2 separate regions of the Homo sapiens genome follow, and region 1 is linked to region 2. The links come from fine-mapping of genetic effects on gene expression. A gene starts in region 2. The other region holds a variant in brackets. All regions are shown on one strand. Distances are from middle to middle.

Region 1 (11,696 bases), 27 kb before region 2:
AATCCCAGCACTTTGGGAGGTGGGTGGATCACCTGAGGTCAGGAGTTCAAGACCAGCCTGCAACATGGGGGAACCCCATCTCTACCAAAAATACAAAAAAGTTAGCCAGGCGTGGTGGTGGGCACCTGTAATCCCAACTATTTGAGAGGCTGAGGCAAGAGAATCACTTGAACCCAGGAGTTGGAGGCTGCAGTGAGCCGAGACTGCGCCATTGCACTCCAGTCTGGGCAGCAAGAATGAAACTCCATCTCGAAAAATAAAAAGAAAACCGATAGAAGAAAATACACAGATGCAAAGGAAATATAGGAAGGACGCCCAGAGACAAAATAGGTTGGTGGGTAAAGGCTAGAAAGAAGGGAAGGATGAGACTGGGCTACAGGGATGAGAAGGGAATGACACTTCTTTGAAATATCTTTTTATTTTATTTATTTATTTTTTTGAGACAGGGTCTCGCCCTGTCACCCAGGCTGGAGTGCAGTGGTGTGATCTTGGCTCACTGCAAGCTCCACCTCCCAGGCTCAAGTGATTCTCGTGCCTCAGCCTCCTGAGTAGCTGGGATTACAGGTGTGTGCCACTACGCCTGGCTAATAGTAGAGACAGGGTTTCCCCAGTTTGGCCTGGCTGCTCTCAAGTGATATGCCCACCTTGGTCTCCCAAAGTACTGGGATTAGTGAACCGCTGCACCCAGCCTGAAATGTCTTTTTCTATAACTGACTGTTACATACTGTGATGTAGCAATGTTTCACATACCCTTCACATACTGCCAAAATAAATAAGAGCAACCAGGATGTAGGGAAAACAGAAAACAAAATTACAGATGAACTCCACCATACCGCAGGTGAGTAACATAACCATACTGAAGGGGGCAGGAAAGAACAGAACTAACAAATAACTGTGGAAAACAGTATCTTTACTGGATATGGTAAGAGTAAAGGCAAAAATTTCTGTACATAAAAGTTGTAGTATAGTTATTAAAAATGTTTCTCGACCATGCGTGGTGGCTCACACCTGTAATCCCAGCACTTTGGGAGGCCAGGATGGGCGGATCACCTGAGGTCAGGAGTTAGAGACCAGCCTGGCCAACATGGTGAAACCCTGTCTCTACTAAAAATACAAAAATTAGCCGGGCGTGGTGGTGCACGCCTGTAATCCCAGCTATGTCGGAAGGCTGAGAATTGCTTGAACCCAGGAGGCAGAGGTTGCAATGGGCAAAAAAAAATGTTTCTCACAGGAGTATAGGTTAGTGATTCTGAAACTATGTATACTAAAGTTGAACAAACAAGTAAATAGATTGTAGACTATGAGGGCTGGATTTCTTACTGTTAGTGAAAGAGGTTACAAATGATAGGGGTCTAGAATAAACCCCGTGGTGCTGGGTTAGAATAGGAGGTGTCAGTCTAAACTCATGATTTTAAAATTTTAGGCTCTGGTGGCTCACTCTTGTAATCCCAGCACTTTGGGAGGCCAAGGCAGGTGAATAGCTTGAGCCCAGGAGTTAGAGATCAGCCTGGGCAATGTGGCAAAACCCCATCTCTACAAAAAATACAAAAATTAGCCAGGTGTGATGGTGTGCGCCTGTAGTCCCAGCTACTTGGGACGCTGAGATGTGAGAATAGATCGAGTCCAGGGGTTCAAGGCTGAAGAGAGCTGTGATTGTACCACTGCACTCCAGCCTGGGTAACAAAGGAAGACCCTGTCTCTAAATAAATAATAAATAAAATTATATATAGATGGATACAGAAATATAGATGTGTGTGTGTGTGTGTGTGTGTGTTTATGTGTGCTTAGTATACATACTTATGTTTCCTAGCTCTGTCCTGAGTGTGTCTAGAGGCAATGGCACCCAGTAACAGTGAGCACACCCGGTACCCAGTTCTTGGTCTCCAAACATCATTCTCCTGCAAAAGGAACCAGGTCTCCTAGGAGATGTGGTTGATTCCAGGGATGCCACAGGGGAATGACAGGATGACCCTGGAATATCTTGTGGTGCTAGAAAGAAAGTGCAGGGATGTGGGGGGATGATGGAGCCATGTCAAGGGAATTGAGGAGCTTGCCTGAAGTTCCTAACGGCCAAAGCTGGAACAGTTTGAGGAACAAAATAAATTATGTTAGTATTGGATTCTAACACATAGACTAAAATAAATATCCACGAATCCATGCTGATATAAACAGTTGAAGAAATAAGTAAACAGGGAAGAAAGGGAGTGCTTCCTTATGGTAGATTTCCAGTTAATACACACAAAAGGCAAGAGGGAAACAGAGACTTGCCATTACATAAACACCACAGTTAAAAAATCACAGGCCAGGTGCGGTGGCTCACGCCTGTAATCCCAGCACTTTGGGAGGCCGAGGCAGGCGGATCACAAGGTCAGGAGATCGAAACCATCCTGGCTAACACGGTGAAACCCTGTCTCTACTAAAAATACAAAAAATTAGCTGGGCATGGTGGCGGGCGCCTGTAGTCCCAGCTACTCTGGAGGCTGAGGCAGGAAAATGGCGTGAACACAGGAGGCGGAGCTTGCAGTCAGCCGAGATCGTGCCACTGCACTCCAGCCTAGGTGACAGAGGGAGACTCCGTCTAGGGAAAAAAAAAAAAAAAAAAAAAAAAAAAAAATATATATATATATATATATAAAATCACAGACAAGATTTACCTGTTGATACTAAAATTAGTGGACAGAAGTTTGAGGAAAAACAAGATTTGCATAGTTTCTATTTCCCCTAATATACTTATCAAGTAAAAAGGGAAAGAAATTAACTAATTTGACAGTGGAGATGGAAACCCCATAGAAACCAGCTTAATAAGTGATTAAGGTAATAAGACGTAGTGACATCATGAAGCCTTTACAAAGATGCACTGAGGACAGCATCTTTTTTTTTTTTTTTTTTTTTTTTGAGACAGGGTCTCACTCTGTCACCCAGGCTGGAATGCAGTGGCGCAATCACAGCTCACTGCAGCCTCGACCTCCTGGGCTCAGGTGATCCTCCTCAGCTTCCCGGGGAGCTGGGACTACAGGTGTGTGCCACCAGGCTGGCTAATTTTTTTTTTTTTTTTTTTTTTTTTTTTTGAGACGGAGTCTCGCTCTGTCACCCAGGCTGGAGTGCAGTGGCGGGATCTCGGCTCACTGCAAGCTCCGCCTCCCGGGTTCACGCCATTCTCCTGCCTCAGCCTCCCAAGTAGCTGGGACTACAGGCGCCCGCCACTACGCCCGGCTAATTTTTTTGTATTTTTAGTAGAGACGGGGTTTCACCGTTTTAGCCGGGATGGTCTCGATCTCCTGACCTCGTGATCCGCCCGCCTCGGCCTCCCAAAGTGCTGGGATTACAGGCGTGAGCCACCGCGCCCGGCCATTTTTTGTATTTTTTGTAGAATAGGGCTTTTGTCATGTTGCCCAGGCTGGACTTGAACTCCTGAGCTCAAGTGATCTGCCTGCCTTGGCCTCTGAAAGTGCTGGGATTACAGTGTGAGCCATCATGCCTGGCAGCATCATTTGTTTTTTTGGTGTGGTATCCTTGCCAGAAATGCATACTTGACTCCAGTATTAAGAAAGCACCAGACAAACCCAAATGGAGGGACATTCAACAAAATAACTGATTGGAAAAAACTCTTTAAAAGCATCAAGATCGTGTTAGACAAGGAAAAAACAAGAACTATTACAGACTGGAGGAGACAAAGGAAAATATACAAATGCAATGTGGGATCCTGGATGGGCTCCTGGAATAGAGAAAGGATTTTAATAGAACACTAGGAAACTTAAATAATATGTGTAGTATCGTTAATAACATTGTATCAATATTAATTTCCTGTTCTTGATCATTATATTATGGTTACATAAGATGTCAACTTCAGTGCAATGTGGGATCCTGTATATGCTCCTGGAATAGAGAAAGGATATTAATGGAACACTGGGGAAACTTAAATAAGGTTTGTAGTATAGTTAAGAACATTGTATCAATATTAATTTCCTGTTCTTGATCATTATACTATGGTTACGTAAGATGTCAACTTTAGGAGAAGCAGGGCCAGGAGTGGAAAGGAGTTCTTTGTACTATTTTGCAACTTTTCTCTCCATCTAAAATTAGTTAGAATAACGCCCTTCATGGGAAATAAAGGCAGAGCACAACACTGTAAATATTACAATCCCAAATGTTTAATATATGCGTATATAGAAAAAAGACTGGGAGGAATTGCAGGAATGTGGTGACATTGGGTATCGCTGAATGGTGGAAATTATGGTAAGGTTTGCTTTCGTTTTCATATTCATCTGTACTTTCTAAGTTTTCTACTCATTTGATGGTTTAATATGGTGGATCCTTGGAAATAACGGTGAATGAGACAAGATGAAGTTTATCTCTCATGGAGCTTATCTTCTAATGGGGGGAAATGGAAAATGAATACATGAATTAAAATCTTTGTGCAGAAAATTAAGCTGATGTGATAGATGGTCAGAGGGGGCCTCTCTGAGAAGGTGACATTTAAGGGGAGATGTGAATAACAAGGAAGAGAACATGGCAGGGTAGGGTAGGGAGACAGAGCAGAGGGAACAGTCTGTGCAGAGGCTGGGAATAGGGCCAGGCTCAGCATGTTCCAGAACCTTGCAGAAGCCAGGGTGGCTCTGGCTACAGCGGACAATGGGGAAGGGACCTGAGATGAGTTCAGAGGGAAAGTGAGGGGCTGAGCCTGGGACTTGATATGGCCTCGGGCACCCCTGGAGGGAACTGAACACATGAGAATCATGATCAAATGTAGGTGGTTTTTTTTTGTTTTGTTTTGTTTTTTTTAACATTTTCTATTTTATTTTATTTTTTAAATATATAGAGACGGGGTCTTTCTGTGTTGCC[C/G]AGGCTGGTCCCAAACTCCTGGACTCAAGCAGTCCTCCCACCTCAGCTTTCCAAAGTGCTGGAATTACAGGCATGAGCCACCACGCACAGCCCTAATGTAGGTTTAACGGAATCCTCCAGCATTCGGGTGGAGCACAGGCTGCAGAAGGCTGGCAGCCTCCAGGGACGTGAGTGAGAGAGGATGGTGAATTTGGTTACTGTGGAAGGAGGGGGGAAGGGGTTGGATTCAGACTCTGTTGTGAAAGAGAGGAGCTAGGAATTGGATGAAGGATGTGATAGAGAGAGAGAGCGGGGGGAGGAGGAAAGAGAGAGGAGAGAGAGATATATGTTGGTCAAGGGTGATGTCTGCATTGGATTGGAGTGAGTGAGTGGATGGTGGACTCATTTACCCAGATGGGGAATGCGGGAGCGGCAGGCTTAGTGGAGAGAGCAAAAGTTCTGTTTTGGTTTGGAATAAGCATGCTTATTATGTTAATGGTCAGAAAAGAATGAATAAAAAAAAAATAATTAGCTCGCCTTTCCTGCCCCTGGAATCCTTGGCCTAAGTTGCTCTCCCAGGTTCCTTTGCTGCAGGTCAGGTGCCCTGGGGGATATGCCTTGGAGTGGCTGTCATGGTTCCAAGCTGACGCAACCTCTTGCCTCATCCTCCTGAGATTGCTGACCTGCTCTGCCTCCAGATCAGCCTGTTCTTTTTTTTTTCCATTTATTTATTTTAAGAGACAGGGTCTCACTCTGTCACCCAGGCTGGAGTGCAGTGGTGTAATCACGGCTCACTGCAGCCTTGAGCTCCTGGGCTCAATCAGTCCTCCCATCTCAGCCTCCTGAGTAGCTGGGACTACATGGCTGGCTAATTTTAATTTTTTTTTTAAATTATACTTTAAGTTTTAGGGTACATGTGCACAACGTGCAGGTTAGTTACATATGTATACATATGCCATCTTGGTGTCCTGCACCCATTAACTCGTCATTTAACATTAGGTATATCTCCCAATGCTATCCTTCCCCCGTCCCCCCACCCCACAACAGGCCCCAGTGTGTGATGTTCCCGTTCCTGTGTCCATGTGTTCTCATTGTTCAGTTCCCACCTATGAGTGAGAACATGTGGTGTTTGGTTTTTTGTCCTTGCGATAGTTTGCTGAGAATGATGGTTTCCGGCTTCATCCATGTCCCTACAAAGGACATGAACTCGTCATTTTTTATGGCTGCATAGTGTTCCATGGTGTGTATGTGCCACATTTTCTTAATCCAGTCTATCATTGTTGGACATTTGGCTTGGTTCCAAGTCTTTGCTATTGTGAATAATGCTGCAATAAACATACATGTGCATGTGTCTTTATAGCAGCATGATTTATAATCCTTTGGGTATATATCCAGTAATGGGATTGCTGGGTCAAATGGTATTTCTAGTTCTAGATCCCTGAGGAATCGCCACACTGACTACCACAGCGGTTGAACTTGTTTACAGTCCCACCAACAGTGTAAAAGTGTTCCTATTTCTCCACATCCTCTCCAGCACCTGTTGTTTCCTGACTTTTTAATGATCACCATTCTAACTGGTGTGAGATGGTATCTCATTGTGGTTTTGATTTGCATCTCTCTGATGGCCAGTGATGATGAGCATTTTTTTCATGTGTCTTTTGGCTGCATAAATGTCTTCTTTCGAGAAGTGTCTATTATATCCTTTGCCCACTTTTTGATGGGGTTGTTTGTTTTTTTTCTTGTAAATTTGTTTGAGTTCATTGTAGATTCTGGATATTAGCCCTTTGTCAGATAAGTAGATTGCAAAAATTTTCTCCCATTCTGTAGGTTGTCTGTTCACTCTGATGGTAGTTTCTTTTGCTGTGCAGAAGCTCTTTAGTTTAATGAGATCCCGTTTGTCAATTTTGGCTTTGGTTGCCATTGCTTTTGGTGTTTTAGACATGAAGTCCTTGCCCATGCCTATGTCCTGAATGGTATTGCCTAGGTTTTCTTCTAGTGTTTTTATGGTTTTAGGTCTAACATTTAAGTCTTTAATCCATCTTGAATTAATTTTTGTATAAGGTGTAAGGAAGGGATCCAGTTTCAGCTTTCTACATATGGCTAGCCAGTTTTCCCAGCACCATTTATTAAATAGGGAATCCTTTCCCCATTTCCTGTTTTTATCAGGTTTGTCAAAGATCAGATGGTTATAGATATGCGGCAATATTTCTGAGGGCTCTGCTCTGTTCCGTTGGTCTATATCTCTGTTTTGGTACCAGTACCATGCTGTTTTGGTTACTGTAGCCTTGTAGTATAGTTTGAAGTCAGGTAGCGTGATGCCTCCAGCTTTGTTCTTTTGGCTTAGGATTGACTTGGCAATGTGGGCTCTTTTTTGGTTCCATATGAACTTTAAAGTAGTTTTTTCCAATTCTGTGAAGAAAGTCATTGGTAGCTTGATGGGGATGGCATTGAATCTATAAATTACCTTGGGCAGTATGGCCATTTTCATGATATTGATTCTTCCTACCCATGAGCATGGAATGTTCTTCCATTTGTTTTATCCTCTTTTATTTCATTGAGCAGTGGTTTGTAGTTCTCCTTGAAGAAGTCCTTCACGTCCCTTGTAAGTTGGATTCCTAGGTATTTTATTCTCTTTGAAGCAATTGTGAATGGGAGTTCACTCATGATTTGGCTCTCTGTCTATTATTGGTGTATAAGAATGCTTGTGATTTTTGCACATTGATTTTGTATCCTGAGACTTTGCATCCTGAGACTTTGCTGAAGTTGCCTATCAGCCTAAGGAGATTTTGGGCTGAGACAATGGGGTTTTCTACAAATACAATCATGTCATCTGCAAACAGGAACAATTTGACTTCCTCTTTTCCTAATTGAATACCCTTTATTTCCTTCTCCTGCCTGATTGCCCTGGCCAGAGCTTCCAACACTATGTTGAATAGGAGTGGTGAGAGAGGGCATCCCTGTCTTGTGCCAGTTTTCAAAGGGAATGCTTCCAGTTTTTGCCCATTCAGTATGATATTGGCTGTGGGTTTGTCATAGATAGCTCTTATTATTTTGAGATATGTCCCATCAATACCTAATTTATTGAGAGTTTTTAGCATGAAGAGTTGTTGAATTTTGTCAAAGGCCTTTTCTGCATCTATTGAGATAATCATATGGTTTTTGTCTTTGGTTCTGTTTATATGCTGGATTACGTTTATTGATTTGTGTATGTTGAACCAACCTTGCATCCCAGGGATGAAGCCCACTTGATCGTGGCGGATAAGCTTTTTGATGTGCTGCTGGATTCAGTTTGCCAGTATTTTATTGAGGATTTTTGCATCGATGTTCATCAGGGATATTGGCCTAAAATTCTCTTTTTTTGTTGTGTCTCTGCCAGGCTTTGGTATCAGGATGATGCTGGCCTCACAAAATGAGTTAGGGAGGATTCCCTCTTTTTCTATTGATTGGAATAGTTTCAGAAGGAATGGTACCAGCTCCTCCTTGTACCTCTGGTAGAATTCGGCTGTGAATCCATCTGGTCCTTGACTTTTTTTGGTTGGTAAACTATTAATTATTGCCTCAATTTCAGAGCCTATTATTGGTCTATTCAGGGATTCAACTTCTTCCTGGTTTAGTCTTGGGATGGTGTATGTGTCGAGGAATTTATCCATTTCTTCTAGATTTTCTAGTTTATTTGCGTAGAGGTGTTTATAGTATTCTCTGATGGTAGTTTGTATTTCTGTGGGATCGGTGGTGATAATCCCCTTTATCATTTTTTGTTGCATCTATTTGATTCTTCTCTCTTTTCTTCTTTATTAATCTTGCTAGCAGTCTATGAATTTTGTTGTTCTTTTCAAAAATCTAGCTCCTGGATTCATTGATTTTTTTGAAAGGTTTTTTGTGTCTCTATCTCCTTCAGTTCTGCTGTGATCTTAGTTATTTCTTGCCTTCTGCTAGCTTTTGAATGTGTTTGCTCTTGCTTCTCTAGTTCTTTTAATTGTGATGTTAGGGTGTCAATTTTAGATCTTTCCTGCTTTCTCTTGTGGGCATTTAGTGCTATAAATTTCCCCCTACAGACTGCTTTGAATGTGTCCCAGAGATTCTGGTATGTTGTGTCTTTGTTCTCGTTGGTTTCAAAGAACATCTTTATTTCTGCCTTCATTTCGTTGTGTACCCAGCAGTCATTCAGGAGCAGGTTGTTCAGTTTCCATGTAGTTGAGCGGTTTTGAGTTAGTTTCTTAATGCTGAGTTCTAGTTTGATTGCACTGTGGTCTGAGAGACAGTTTGTTATCATTTCTGTTCTTTTACATTTGCTGAGGAGTGCTTTACTTCCAAGTATGTGGTCAATTTTGGAATAGGTGCGGTGTGGTGCTGCAAAGAATTATATTCTGTTGATTTGGGGTGGAGAGTTCTGTAGATGTCTATTAGGTCCGCTTGGTGCAGAGCTGAGTTCAATTCCTGGATATCCTTGTTAACTTTCTGTTTCGTTGATCTGTCTAATGTTGACAGTGGGTTGTTAAAGTCTCCCATTATTATTGTGTGGGAGTCTAAGTCTCTTTGTAGGTCTCTAAGGACTTGCTTTATGAATCTGGGTGCTCCTGTATTGGGTGCATATATATTTAGGATAGTTAGCTCTTCTTGTTGAATTGATCCCTTTACCATTATGTAGTGGTCTTCTTTGTCTCTTTTGATCTTTGTTGGTTTAAAGTCTGTTTTATCAGAGACTAGGATTGCAACCCCTGCCTTTTTTTGTTTTCCATTTGCTTGGTAGATCTTCCTCCATCCCTTTATTTTGAGCCTATGTGTGTCTCTGCACGTGAGATGGGTTTCCTGAATACAGCACACTGATGGGTCTTGACTCTTTATCCAATTTGCCAGTCTGTGTCTTTTAATTGGAGCATTTAGCCCATTTACATTATTGTTATGTGTGAATTTGATCCTGTCATTATGATGTTAGCTGGTTATTTTGCTCATTAGTTGATGCAGTTTCTTCCTAGCCTCAGTGGTCTTTACAGTTTGGCATGTTTTTGCAGTGGCTGGTACCAGTTGTTCCTTTCCATGTTTAGTGCTTCGTTCAGGAGCTCTTTTAGGGCAGGCCTGGTGGTGAGAAAATCTCTCAGCATTTGCTTGTCTGTAAAGTATTTCATTTCTCCTTCACTTATGAAGCTTAGTTTGGCTGGATATGAAATTCTGGGTTGAAAATTCTTTCCTTTAAGAATGTTGAATATCGGCCCCCACTCTCTTCTGGCTTGTAGAGTTTCTGCCGAGAGATCAGCTGTTAGTCTGATGGGCTTCCCTTTGTGGGTAACCCGACCTTTCTCTCTGGCTGCCTTTAACATTTTTTCCTTCATTTCAACTTTGGTGAATCTGACAATTATGTGTCTTGGAGTTGCTCTTCTCAAGGAGTATCTTTGTGGCATTCTCTGTATTTCCTGAATATGAATGTTGGCCTGCCTTGCTAGGTTGGGGAAGTTCTCCTGGGTAATATCCTGCAGAGTGTTTTCCAACTTGGTTCCATTCTCCCCGTCACTTTCAGGTACACCAATCAGATGTAGATTTGGTCTTTTCACATAGTCCCATATTTCTTGGAGGCTGTGTTCTTTTTATTATTTTTTCTCTAAACTTCTCGCTTCATTTCATTCATTTGATCTTCCATCACTGATACCCTTTCTTCCAGTTGATCGAATTGGCTACTGAGGCTTGTGCATTCGTCACGTAGTTCTCATGCCTTGGTTTTCAGCTCCATCAGGTCCTTTAAGGACTTCTCTGCATTGATTATTCTAGTTAGCCATTCGTCTAATTTTTTTTCAAGGTTTTTAACTTCTTTGCCATGGGTTTGGACTTCCTCCTTTAGCCTGGAGTAGTTTGATCATCTGAAGCCTTCTTCTCTCAACTCGTCAAAGTCATTCTCCGTCCAGCTTTGTTCTGTTGCTGGTGAGGAGCTGTGTTCCTTTGGAGGAGGAGAGGCACTCTGATTTTTAGAGTTTCCAGTTTTTCTGCTCTGTTTTTTCCCCATCTTTGTAGTTTTATCTACCTTTGGTCTTTGATGATGGTGACGTACAGATGGGGTTTTGGTGTGGATGTCCTTTCTGTTTGTTAGTTTTCCTTCTAACAGTCAGGACCCTCAGCTGCAGGTCTGTTGGAGTTTGCCGGAGGTCCACTCCAGACCCTGTTTGCCTGGGTATCAGCAGCAGAGGCTGTAGAACAGCGGATTTTGGTGAACAGCAAATGTTGCTGCCTGATCGTTCCTCTGGAAGTTTTGTCTCAGAGGAGTACCCAGCTGTGTGAGGTGTCAGTCTGCCCCTACTGGGGGATGCCTCCCAGTTAGGCTACTCAGGGGTCAGGGACCCACTTGAGGAGGCAGTCTGTCCATTCTCAGATCTCCAGCTGCATGCTGGGAGAACCACTACTCTCTTCAAAGCTGTCAGACAGGGACATTTAAGTCTGCAGAGGATTCTGCTGCCTTTTGTTTGGCTGTGCCCTGTCCCCAGAGGTGGAGTCTACAGAGGCAGGCAGGCCTCCTTGAGCTGCAGTGGGCTTCACCCAGTTCGAACTTCCTGGCTGCTTTGTTTACCTACTCAAGCCTTGGCAGTGGCGGGCGCCTCTCCACCAGCCTTGCTGCCACCTTGCAGTTTGATCTCAGACTGCTGTGCTAGCAATGAGCGAGGCTCCGTGGGCGTAGGACCCTCTGAGCCATGCGCGGGATATAATCTCCTGGTGTGCCATTTGCTAAGACCATTGGAAAAGCGCAGTATTAGGGTGGGAGTGACCCAATTTTCCAGGTGCCGTCTGTCACCCCTTTCTTTGACTAGGAAAGGGAATTCCCTGACCCCTTGCGCTTCCTGGGTGAGGCGATGCCTCACCCTGCTTTGGCTCATGCTTGGTGCGCTGCACCC
Region 2 (11,696 bases):
GTGCCTAAAGAATGTGGTTCAGCCTGTAGGGACCAGCAGGACCCGGCTGGCTGGGTCCCTCACACAATCCTCTCTGGGCCAGAGGCTGGGGCCCGGGTTGGGGTGGGTGAGCCCTGGGAGCCCCTTGGCCCTGGGTCTGGGCCCGGCAGTGGCAGCAGGCCTGATGGGGGGCCAGCCCCGCACACAGCCTCGTAGGGGGGAAGGGTGTCCATGGAGACCGTGTGAAGGCCACCTTGGGCCGGGGTCCTCTGCTCCTGCTGGTGTCGGCCAGGGCTGTGGCCGCTGCCTGAGTCGGAGGTGCCATCCAGCGTGGGGCAGGAATCAGTCAGCGAGTAGGGTGGTGGTGCGTCCGTGGGGACATACAGCTGAGTGGCCCCTGGCCCCACACACTCCTCGTAGCTACGAGAGAAGAGGCTCCCTCAGTGCCCCACCTAGGCCTTAGGGCTGGGTCTCTCCCAAAGGCCTGGGGGTCTATCTGCAGTGACAAGCTGTCCTGGCTGTGGACCAGGGTGGGCCTTGTCCACGCTGGCTCCAATGAAACCCTGCTACTTCCCTCCATCTCCAGAGGGGGACCTCAGAACCCTGGGACCTGGATTTGGGACCTGACTCAGCCCTCATATGCGGTGTGAGCTCAACGCATGAACACTGAGCTGCCTGGGTCTGCGGTGCCTCGAAACAGCAGTGGCCACTGTCTAGGGAGCATCTCCCCGCAGCGCACTGGGTGTGCAGAGGCTGGGTAGGACCAACCTCAGGCTACCAGACACCCTGGTCTCCAGCCACTCCAAAGTTCCCCTTCTCAGTTTAGGAAAGAGTCCCCTGGGCCCCTCTGAACCCACAGATGCAGAGCAAAAGAGCACCCATTGCCCCGAAAGGACTGGCAGCACCACCCCTGCTCGAGCCCCTGGGGCAGGGGTGAAGGTGGAAGGCCAAGGAGGAGGACACGGGCCATTCATCCAGGGCTGGAGGGGTCTCCTAGCAGGGAATGGTGGAGGCCCTGACCCCTTTCCCTCTTCGAGTACTGATGGGTGATCTGCCTGAGGGGGGCTGGCAGGAGAGGAACAAAAGCCCTCCAGAGAAGAGCTCCCCATGGGGAGGGGGCTGCTTGAGGGCCCTGAGGGCAGTTTGGACACAGCCACTCCTGTGGGCATGATCACAGGCACAGGGCCCTCCTGGCCACAAGCTCCACCTGTCCTTTCTCTTCCCACTGCCACTGTCTCTGGGGTCCTCAGGAGCTGAGGGCATAACTCCCTCCTTCTGGCTCCATGACCCCCCACTTCTCTGAGAGGAACCCGTCTTGATCCCTAAGGCCAGTCTCTGCCTCAGTGGCTACAGGTGAGGCCACAGAGACCCCAGGCTCAGCCAGACCCTTGTTGCCTGGGAGGTCTCGGAAGGTGTGTGCGTGTATGTGTTCGTGTGTGCATGTATGTGTGTGTGTGTGTTTGGAGGGGGAATCACCTCTGTCTTCGTAGTCGTGCCCCCACCTTCCCCACCCCTCTCCACCCCTGCCTCATGCCTACCCAGCCCTGTCCAGGCACTGGACCCAACCAGCCTTGGGGGTGCCTGACCACAATGGAGGCCTGCAGCTGGGGCATCCCCTCGTGCCTGAGGCCAACCCAACCCTCTGCTCTGACTCAGGGAGAAGTTGGCTCCCAGGCACCCCCAGGGCATCTGTGCACCTCCACCTCCATCAGAAGCAGCCCCACCTGTTCCTGTCCTTTAGATGAGCTGCACCGGGCAGAGGCAGCTGGGGATGGGGGAGGTGCCTGTGTCCTCAGGCTATGGCCTCAGGAACCAAGGGCTCAGGTCTAACCCTGAGCCACATCCCCAGATACCCACAGTATCTTCCTTCCCAGGAAAACCCAGGAAGCAGGGTTATTTGTCCTTATTTCATAAACAAAGAAATGGAGCCCCTGAGAGCCACAGTGACATGCCTGAGAGCATCAACCTGGGCGGCGTCCAGGATGGGCTCAAACCCAGGTGGGTATGACTGGAAAGCCAGGGCAGGGGAAGGGGAGAGGAGGTCAAACCCCACTGTGCCCTCTGTAGCGTGGCACACGCGTGCTCGCCTGCCTCTGGGCCTTTGCTCATCTGTGCCCTCTGCTGGTCACACCCTCCTCTGTATCTCTGAAGGTCCCAGTTCCTCCCAACCCAAGCACCACACACCCTTGACAAAGGCCGATTTCCTGTGTCAGCCCATCCTCCCTGATCCCCTCCCCTCGTCCTCCTCAGCATGATAGTTATCACCTGTGGCCTCGAAATAGTAACGACACCACTGGTGGGAAGAGCCAGTGCCTTGCTGAGCATTTTACTGGCACTTCTGTGTCATTTTCATGAGTATCCTGTGGGGCAGATATTATTATTATTATTTTATTATTATTTTTTTGAGACGAAGTCTCACTCTGTCGCTAAGGCTGGAGTGCAGTGGTGCGATCTCAGCTCACTACAACCTCCGCCTCCCGGGTTCAAGCGATTCTCCTGCCTCAGCCTCCCAAGTAGCTGGGACTACAGGCGCCCGCCACCACGCCCGGCGAATTTTTTGTATTTTTAGTAGAGATGGGGTTTCACCGTGTTAGCCAGGATGGTCTCGATCTCCTGACCTCGTGATCCCCCACCTCAGCCTCCCAAAGTGCTGGGATTACAGGCGTGAGCCCCCACGCCCGGCTGGGGCAGGTATTATTACATGGACATTTCCACAATGGAGAAGCAGGCACAGCGGGATTAAGTAACTTGCTCATGATCATACAAGAAACAATTTCCAGAGCGAGTGCACCTGGGGCCATCAGATGTCAGCATATGGGCTTGTCCCCTCTTTACCCCCCAGTCCCTGGTGTTATTTATAGAAACACAATACAGTTTTTTTTCCCTAGGGGGAAGTTGATCCCACAGCCACGGAAATAGCCAGATACTCCTCTGGCCTTCCCTCCCACCCTGAGGGAGACACCCGGAGGAGCAGATCCCCAGGGAATTCAGAACAGCTGCCACGGAACCTCCCCTGAAACTGCAGGGGCATTCCCGGCATGCCTACTCAACAGCCTGAGGAGGTGGGCTTGTCTCTTCCTTTCCTAGCACTTCCAGGTGATATCTGCTAAGTCACACTGCCTCAGTGGGACCTACTTGGTCAGGAGTGGGGAGGAGGTGGCCATGCCCACTGAGCAGATGTTTTCTGCATTTATACGACATGCAGAGGTGCCACTCTTTCCCATGATGGAGTTGGGGGGTCTTTGTGTCCAGGGCCCCATCCTCTGATGCCCCCTTCCCCATGAGGCCTCCTTACCCTGGTGGAGAATCTGGGTACAGCTCCCTGAGCACCGTGGCATCCACGTCCCCGTCAGAGCTGATGTCCAAGGGTGGGGGCCAGTCCTCTGAGGAGCTGCAGGCATAGCGCATCCTGCGGCTTGAGCGGCTGTATGTGTGCTCGTCCGACACTGCAGGGAACAGACCACCGGCCTGGGCCTCAGACCAGGATCCAGGGATGGTCCTTATGGGTCTGTAGGTCTACCTGGGGCCATGGAGGCTCTGATTCCCCACCTGACCACTCCTCTCCTCACCAAGCACAGCTGCCTTCATCCATCAGTGACAGCTCCAGAATGTGGGTGCCATTGTCGTGTTGGGCATGGGGATACAGAGAGGAAGCAGAGCTGGCCCTGTCCTGGCCAGCTCCCAAGGTGGTGGCAGCCTGCTTTGGGGATAACCTGGCACTAGGCAGTGTGTCATGAGCTTTGGTAGAGGTCCTACTGGGACTGTGGGAGTAAAGGCAGGCCTGACCAGTCTGGAAGTCAGGGAGGGCTTCCTGGAGGAGGGGCTGCTACAGCTGAGTCTTGTCTAGGATTTAACCAGGGGAAGAGGGGAAGGCCGGGAGGAGGGAACTGAATAGCTTTCCAAGGAGGGAGATAAGAAAGAAGAGTGTGGTGTGAACAGGGAGCTTTGAGCTGTGGAGTTGGGCTGGGCATGGAAAATGCGGTGGAGAGTAGCAAGGAATGAGGGCTTCAGAGAACTCTGGGATCAGCCCTCCCACACTCACTGCCCTTTAGGTATCTTGGGGAAAAAAAGGGGCTTCTATGATGAGTCTGGCAGCTCCCCACACTGCATTCTCCTCTGCATTTTTTACCATGCACCAGGACATCAAAGGCTCTGAAAAGTCCTGCAGCTAAAAAACACATTTAACTGTGCCTGTCCAGCATTCGACCTCAGAATCTTCCTTTCTTAGACCTAGTAACACTGTTTAGGAAATGCTGCTGGAGCACAATCCTCTCATTCCACAGCTGAGGTTCTGGGAGGCCCGGTGACTTGCTGGAGGACAACACACAGTGAGTGGTTGGGCCAGAGGGCAGCTGGATGTCTTGGCTCCTCCTTGCTAAGCTCTCTACAGCCCAGTTTCTGACATGTATCGTCCTGGATGGGAACAGTGGGAGCTGCAAAGGTGGCTGAGACACGAGGTCTCCTCAGTCCAGGGCTCCCAGGTGCCTCCTCCCCTCTGGGGGTGGGGCTTGGCATCAGGGGCGGAGCTATAACCTTTCTCTGCTGTGAGTGGCGCAGTTGCCATCCCCATTCTACAGACAAGGAAGCTGATACTCAGGGTCACATACGTGGTGAAGCATGGAGTTGTAATTTATGCACTCTGTATAACCCCAAAGACTGCTCTTCCCACTCCCCTAAACTCTTTTTCCCACTCTTCATATAATAGTGAGTGGAAGAATCTGGATATGAAACTCTATCTGCAGGTACAATTCCAATCCCAGGGTTATATACCGACACCGAGAAAGCTCTCAGAAGAAAATATTCCAAACACGTTGATGGTGGCCCTGTCCAGATGACAGAGGATCATGACCCTTATTTCTTTTTCTTTTTTTCTTTTCTTTCTTTTTTTTTTTTTTTGAGACGGAGTCTCTCACTGTCGCCCAGGCTGGAGTGCAGTGGCGCGATCTCAGCTCACTGCAAGCTCCGCCTCCGGGGTCCACGCCATTCTCCTGCCTCAGCCTCCCGAGTAGCTGGGACTACAGGCACCCGCCACCACGCCCGGCTCATTTTTTGTATTTTTAGTAGAGACCGGGTTTCACCGTGTTAGCCAGGATGGCCTCAATCTCCTGACCTCGTGATCTGCCCGCCTCGGCCTCCCAAAGTGCTGGGATTACAGGCGTGAGCCACCGCGCCTGGCCTATTTATTTCTTTATATTTCTTTTCTTATATTGTCTATATTTTTAAGGTTTTCTATAATGAACACACATTACTTTTCTACTAGGAGAAATGAAGTCAATAACATATGCTGTAAAAAAGGAGCTGAAATGCCATTTGTTTCTCCTGTTCAGGGCACCAGCTGAGAGACAGAATTTTTGGAAGAACTTAGGAAAGAAACTAAGAAAAGACAACAGCACACAGCAACAAGGTGAGACTGGAAGTTGAACCAGGGCTGCTGGGCTTGGGTGCCAGGTACCCCTTCGCCCCACCAGCCAGCATTGCCAGGGAAGGGTTTTTGGGTTCAGGGAGGGTTCCACCTGCAGGGCAGCAGGTGTGCCTGTCACACAGGGATCCCTGGGGAAAGTCAGGGCTGCTTCCTGGACCTGAGAGGAGTGACTGGGTGGGCAGCGCTGAGGGCTGTTAGAGCTGGAGCAAACTGCTATCTACCCTTTCTTCTTGGGCTGCTTTTTCTTGGACTTCCCAGAGGGGAGCATCTTGGGAAAACTGAGGCTGCCCTAAGGTGCTCAGACCCCAAACCTGAGACATCCAGCTGGGCAGAGCTCCTGAGAGACAGCTGGAAAGAAACCTGCACCCGCCACTCCCATTTGAACTTCCCAAATCCCTTCTTTTCCCTTCTCTCCTGACTTCCCTGTCGGCACAGATCCAAATAGTCCAGGACTCCGGAAGCCCTGCTTCCCACTTCACATAAGCTGAAACCTCCTGTTTACCCCGATACCTTGGTTCATTATTTAACATCACTCCAAGTTCACTGCCCCTTGACAGGCTCTGGGAGAGGGAGGAAGAGGAACTGGCACTCATGAGCACCTGCTGTGCTCAATCTCTATGATCTCATCTACCTCACACCCCACTGTGGGAGGAGAGCAGTGGTTACCCCTTCCACCAGATGAAGAGACCGAGAGTGAAGTCACTTGCTCTAAACCTGCAGAAGTGACAGGAGACAGAGTCAGCCACCAGATCTCTCTTAAAGCTCAAGATGGAACAGAATGACAGAATTTTCTTTTCTTTCCTTCTCTCTCCTTTCTTTCTTCTTTCTTTCTTTCTTTCTCTTTCCTTTCTTTTTCCTTTTTCTTTCTCTCCTTTTTTTCTCTCTCTTCTTTCTTCTCTTCTCTTTCTTCTTTCTTTCTCTCTTCTCTATTTCCCCTCCCTCCCTCCCTCCCTCCCTCCCTCCCTTCCTCCCTCCCTCTCTCCCTCCCTCCCTCCCTCCCTCTCTCCCTCCCTCTCTCCCTCCCTCTCTCCCTCCCTCTTTCTTCTTCCTCCCCCACCCCCATCTCATTCTCAAAGATTTGTGGCTCCTCTCTGTGTCTGGCTAGACTACAGAAAGGCTCTGTGGGCAGGCAGAGGGCCAACTCTGTCCTGAGGGTGATGGGGAGCCATTGGGAAGTGGTCACAGTCCTGTCACTTTGGTTGCCTTGTGGAGAATGCCTTGGAGGTGCCAGGCTGGTGGCTGGCAGGCAGGGACAGCTGACATTAGTGCAGTGGCCTGGGAGCAGGTTTTCTTGGAGAAAGAGATGATGAAAATAGCTCACATTTATTGAGCATGTATTTACCCATTAGCCAGGTGCTGTGCTAATTTAGTCCTCACAATAACTGTTTGAGGTGGATCCTCTTGCACCAGTTTTATAGATGACTCGCCTGAGGCAAAGAGAGTTTTGGCAGCTTTCCTGAGGATGCGCATAGGAAGTAGGAAATCAGGCCTCTGTGGACACCTGGAGCCTGAGGTGCCTGTGGGGCTTCACAGGGTGATGTCCAGGGGACTTCTGGGCATGCAGTTCTGGAGCTGACCTGCGGGCTGGAGCTAGGTAAGGGAGGATGATGGATGGTGTATGAGATGGAGCAGGGAGTGGGTGTAGAGAGAGGACCAGGACCAAGGTGTGGGATCTGAGGGACCTTGACTTATAAAGGGACAGAGGAGAGGAATCCGCAGCCAGAGGGGTGGGAGAGAGGCCAGGAGGGCTTGAGTCACCAGAGCTGGGGGGCTGTGAGTGTGTCTGACAGGTGGAAGGGGCCCAGTGCCAAAGGTTGGGGTTCACTGGTACACTGCCCCTCCCTCTTTATTTATTATTTATTATTTATTTATTTATTTATTTATTTAGAGACAGGGTCTTGCTCTGTTGCTCAGGCTGGAGTGCAATGGTGTGATCGTAGCTCACTGCAGCCTGAAACCCCTGAGCTCAAGCTATCCTCCCACCTTGGCCTCCCAAAGTGCTGGGATTATAGGTGTGAGGCACCGCGCCTGGTGGTGCCGCTTTCATGTTCTCCCACAGCTGCTCACAGTGCGTTTCCCTCTTCCCTGGCACCCTCCCAAGGCTCCCGGCAGCCCCTGCGCATCCTCCAGAAGGCTGGGGGAAGATATGGGGCAACAGCACCTCTGGGTTCCCTGCCGAGGCCCCAGGAGGTGTCAAAGCTGTAGCCGAGTGCAGAAGTGGGGCAGGGAGGCCGGAACCCCACAGGGGTCACCACCACCACAGGCTGCAGTGGGGAAGCCAAGGCCTGACCCCGCTTGGCAGAGCTGTGACCTCAGTCATCCCACCCACCCCAGGGACAGAGCCGAGGCCTCATTCATTGGCACCAGTCCCGAGGCCACCACAGGCTACAGAGGGGCTGGCCTGCCCCTAAGCCCATCTCTTTCCTCTGCGCCAAGGCCAACCCCTCAGCCCTCTCAGCTTGGGAACTACTGTGGGCGCCTAGCGTGCACTCCAAGATAAGTCATTGAACAAGTTGCTTCTTTGTGCCTCAGTTTCCCAGTCTTAATTTTTTTATTTTTTTAGAGACAGGGTCTCTCTCTGCTGTCACCCAGGCTGGCATGCAGTGGTGAGATCATAGCTCACTGAAGCCTTGACCTGGGCTCAAGGGACCCTCCCGACTCAGCCTCCTGAATAGCTGGGACTACAGGCATGTGCCATCACACCTGGATAATTTTTACATTTTTTTTGTAGAGATGGGGTCTTGCTGTGTTGCCCAGGCTGGTCTCAAACTCCTGGTCTGAAGTGATCCTCCCACCTTGGCCTCCCAAAGTGTTGAAATTACAGGTGTGAGCCATGGCACCCAGCCCAGTTTCCTATTCTTTATTTACTTTTTATTTTTTGAGACAGAGTCTCGTTCTGCCACCCAGGCTGGAGTGCAGTGGCATGATCTTGGCTCACTGTAACCTATGCCTCCCAGGTTCAAGCGATTCTTGTACCTCAGCCTCCTGAGTAGCTGGGATGAGAGGCATGTGCCACCATGCCCAGCTAATTTTTGTATTTTTAGTAGAGACAAGGTTTTGCCATGTTGGCCAGGCTGGTCTTGAACTCCTGACTTCAGATGATCCGTCCGCCTCAGCCTCCCAAAGTGCTAGGATTACAGGCATGAGCCACCGCACCTGACTAGTTTCCTAGTCTTTAAAGGGGGCAACTACATCTTTTGCCTTGAGGATAAAATACAGTGGCTCCTACCTTGCCCATGGAGCGCTTCCTCCAGGCCTGAGCCTGTCTGGGGACGAGTCACCTGTGGGCCCTGCTCTCATGGATGCAGCACAATCACCCCATGACCAAGACACTGAGGGAGGCATGGGTGCAATGCCGAGGAGGTACAGAGGAGGGGGACACCTATCCAGCTCTGCCTGGTAGGTGTGAGGAGAGGCCAGACAAGCTCCCATAAGGAGGCAGCCTTTGAGCGGGGCCTGGAAGGCTTTTTTTCGGTTCGAGAAGGCCAGGGAATGGCAGTCAGGGCAGAGGGAAGAGCCCAGGCAAAGGGCAGAGGCTGGAAGGAGCATGGACAGGGGACTGGAAAAGAGTGGGAGGAGCTGGGCAAGGGCCAGGCTGTGCGAGGGGCAGGCGGCAGACTGACCATCCTGGGTCTACCCGGCATCCTCCAGGGCTTGGGGACCTGGGTTTCTCTTGCAGGGGATGGGCATGCTCTGGGCAGGAGCCCTGGACTCTGCAGCCTCAGGTTGGTGATGCAGGGGTGGGACAGGCCCGTCCTGGCCTGGGAGTGCTTCTGGCTTGTCTCCTTGGGGAGTCCCTGGCTTCTGGGGAGACTTGCAGAGACTGGGTGGGCTGAGCTTTCCACATCTGTTTTATTCATGCTGAACTTTCTCTTTGATCCTCATTGTTGGACAGTGAGAACAGTCCACTAGCCTGCTGTGTCTTTCCTCAACTGTGGCCACTTGTCCGACTCATCCCGGGATGTCCCTCTGTGTCTTACACAAGGTCCAGCCTCCTGCTCTTCTGATTCTCCTAACAGCTTTCCCAGGGGAGCAACATCCAGGTCTGAGTGACACCCACTGTGGCCATGTACGTGTCTGCCGGACACTGCCTTGAGCCCACGGGGCGGCTCCCAGGGGCGTCTCCCCGACACCTCCAGCTCCCTTCCTGGGCAGTGCTGTGCAGCGGGGCAGCCTGTGGGTGCCAGGTCAGGCTGCCTGGGCTCAAGTGAGTTATCATCTCACTAGGACCATGGTGAGGATTTTGCAGTGAGATTATGTGCACAGACAGCGCCAGGCACCCAGCAAGCACTCCTTACTCACTGGCCATTACTACCCAGGCTCCTGTTCACCAGCTCCAGCTACCCATCAGTCCCCTCCTTAACCAGTTAACTCTGAAAAAGGACAGGAAATACCCCAAACCTGGCTAATCAGGGTGTGTCTGGGAGGGGGAGGAGGGGCCCCAAAGGCCAGGGCTGATCGGATCCAATTCAATCTATTTTAAAAATTTTTCCTATCTTTCTTTTCCCCAAGCTTTTCCTGCCTTGGAGAGGGAAACGCCTCAGGTCTGGCCATGGCTCTGGCTCCTAGGAGGTTGGCATCACTTCACCCTGCAGTGTGAAGGGTGCCTACTGCTGTTAAGCACCTCCAAGGTCCTGCTTTTCTTTTCCCTATCTGGTGGTGGCCTTGGACCTAGGCAGAGGCCCCTGAAGGCCTGTGGATGGTGATTTGGGAAGGAAGAGTCTGGCTTTTTCCTGCCATTGAAAATCGTCTGAGAATGGAATGCAATTGAATTTTTTCCTGCTGCCTTAGACAGCTGGCCCCTTCCAGGAGTGACACAGTCAGGTGGCTGCGTTCTGTAAAAAGTTCAGGCATTCTAGCCACATGCACAGATTTGGGACTGGTCACCCAAGAATTAGCCACCAACTCTGTTTAAGGGTGATCCCAACAACTGGGAGACCCTCAGATCAGTTCTATTTGCACTCTGCTGACTCTCACCAGGGATAGTTTTATTCACTCATCATTCATTCCATAAATTCACCCATTCACTTATTCATATATTCACCCCCATCAACCCATCCCACTGCCCACCTATTTATCTTTCCATTCCTCCACTCAACCCTCCCTTCCATCTCTCCACTCAGGCATAACACTCAATCCACCCATCTATCCATCCCTCCATTTTCTCATTCATCCATCCTTTCATCTACCCATTTATCCATTCATACTCTCCACCCATCCATCTCTCCACCCATCCACTGACTCTTCCACTCAACCTCCATCTATCCATCACCTCACTCCTCACCCATCCATTTTCCTACGAGTCCTTCTCCCTTCTCACCCATCCATTCCTCTCTTCATTCATCCACTCATCTCTCCACCCAACCATCCATCCATCCATCCATCCATCCATCCATCCATCCATCCATCCATCGAGACACCAGATGGACCAGCCCTTGGTGCAGCCTGGACCAACAGTGGCAGGGGAGGAGTGACACACTCTCCCTCTGACCTTCAGCCTCACTCTGAGTTTCTCTCTTAGCAGTCATCCGGGCCTCTCATGTCACCGAGAACATTATGGTGGGCGCCTGTGAGCTCTTCCTGACCACCCAAGACTTCTAGGATGCTTTCCCGACCACCCTGCTCCACCCAGGGCAGAGTTGCCAACTCCTTGATGCCTCCTGTGTTGCAATCCCAGTCAGATGAGGTCCCAGGGCCCCAGGGTGGGCGGCGGCTCACCGTAGCCGTGCTCGTACTCTCGGTGTCGACGCCGGCGGTGGTGATGATGGTGGTGGTGGTGGCGGTGGTGGCGGTGGCGGTGCCGCTGAAGCCGGGCCTGCCTGTCCCTGCGGATGCTGCCCACAATGATGGTGATGCAGGAGAGGATGATGACCACACCTATGACGGCACTCGCCACCAGCACGGGGGACACGAGCAGATGGCTGTGCTCCGAGCTCTCTGAGAATGTGGGGTAGAAGTAGCTGGTGCGGTTGTATCGTGCTACTGTGGACAGAGAGAGAGGACACTGAGCTGGAGCCCAGGCCTGCCACACCCCTTCCTTCTCTGCCCGTGCTGCCCTGTGAGCTGTTGCTCCCTAAATAAATGGAGGAGGGTCTGGGCTCAGGCCCACGGACTCTATCCTGGCTGCTCCTGGGGGAGAAGGAGAGCAGCACCTCACTCCGCTGCCTGCAGGAGCCTCTGGTAGTGAGGGCTGACTGTCCCTCCTCTCCTCTGAAGCCTCTGCCCACAAGCTGAACTACCTCACAGATAGGAAACAGGAAGCTCAGAGAGGGCAGTGGACTTGCCCAAGGTTACC

Evidence for each region. PIP is the estimated chance that this variant, and not a neighbour inherited with it, causes the effect. A credible set is the group of variants that fine-mapping cannot tell apart.
Region 1: its variant is the best candidate, but not a certain one, in a credible set for the expression of BEAN1-AS1 in whole blood (INTERVAL, PIP 0.75).

Annotation. Positions count from the first base shown.
Region 1 is chr16:66,496,131-66,507,826 of GRCh38, reverse strand. No RefSeq gene overlaps it. Among named protein-coding and RNA genes, the nearest start is that of BEAN1-AS1, 26 kb to the right of the region's middle. The variant C/G (reference allele first, on the strand shown) is at 4,843.
Region 2 is chr16:66,469,289-66,480,984 of GRCh38, reverse strand. It overlaps BEAN1-AS1 (BEAN1 antisense RNA 1), which reads left to right and starts at 4,583. Exons shown (of 3, transcript NR_109960.1): 1 at 4,583-4,721; 2 at 5,307-5,383; 3 at 10,923-11,189. It overlaps BEAN1 (brain expressed associated with NEDD4 1), which reads right to left. Exons shown (of 5, transcript NM_001178020.3): 3 at 11,120-11,383; 4 at 3,275-3,425; 5 at 1-399. The coding sequence ends at 60. LOC124903698 reads left to right here. Exons shown (of 5, transcript XM_047435016.1): 2 at 566-1,977; 3 at 2,868-3,041; 4 at 5,307-5,383; 5 at 10,923-11,696. RefSeq lists enhancers at 664-1,203, 2,285-2,825, 3,366-3,907 and a silencer at 4,413-4,512.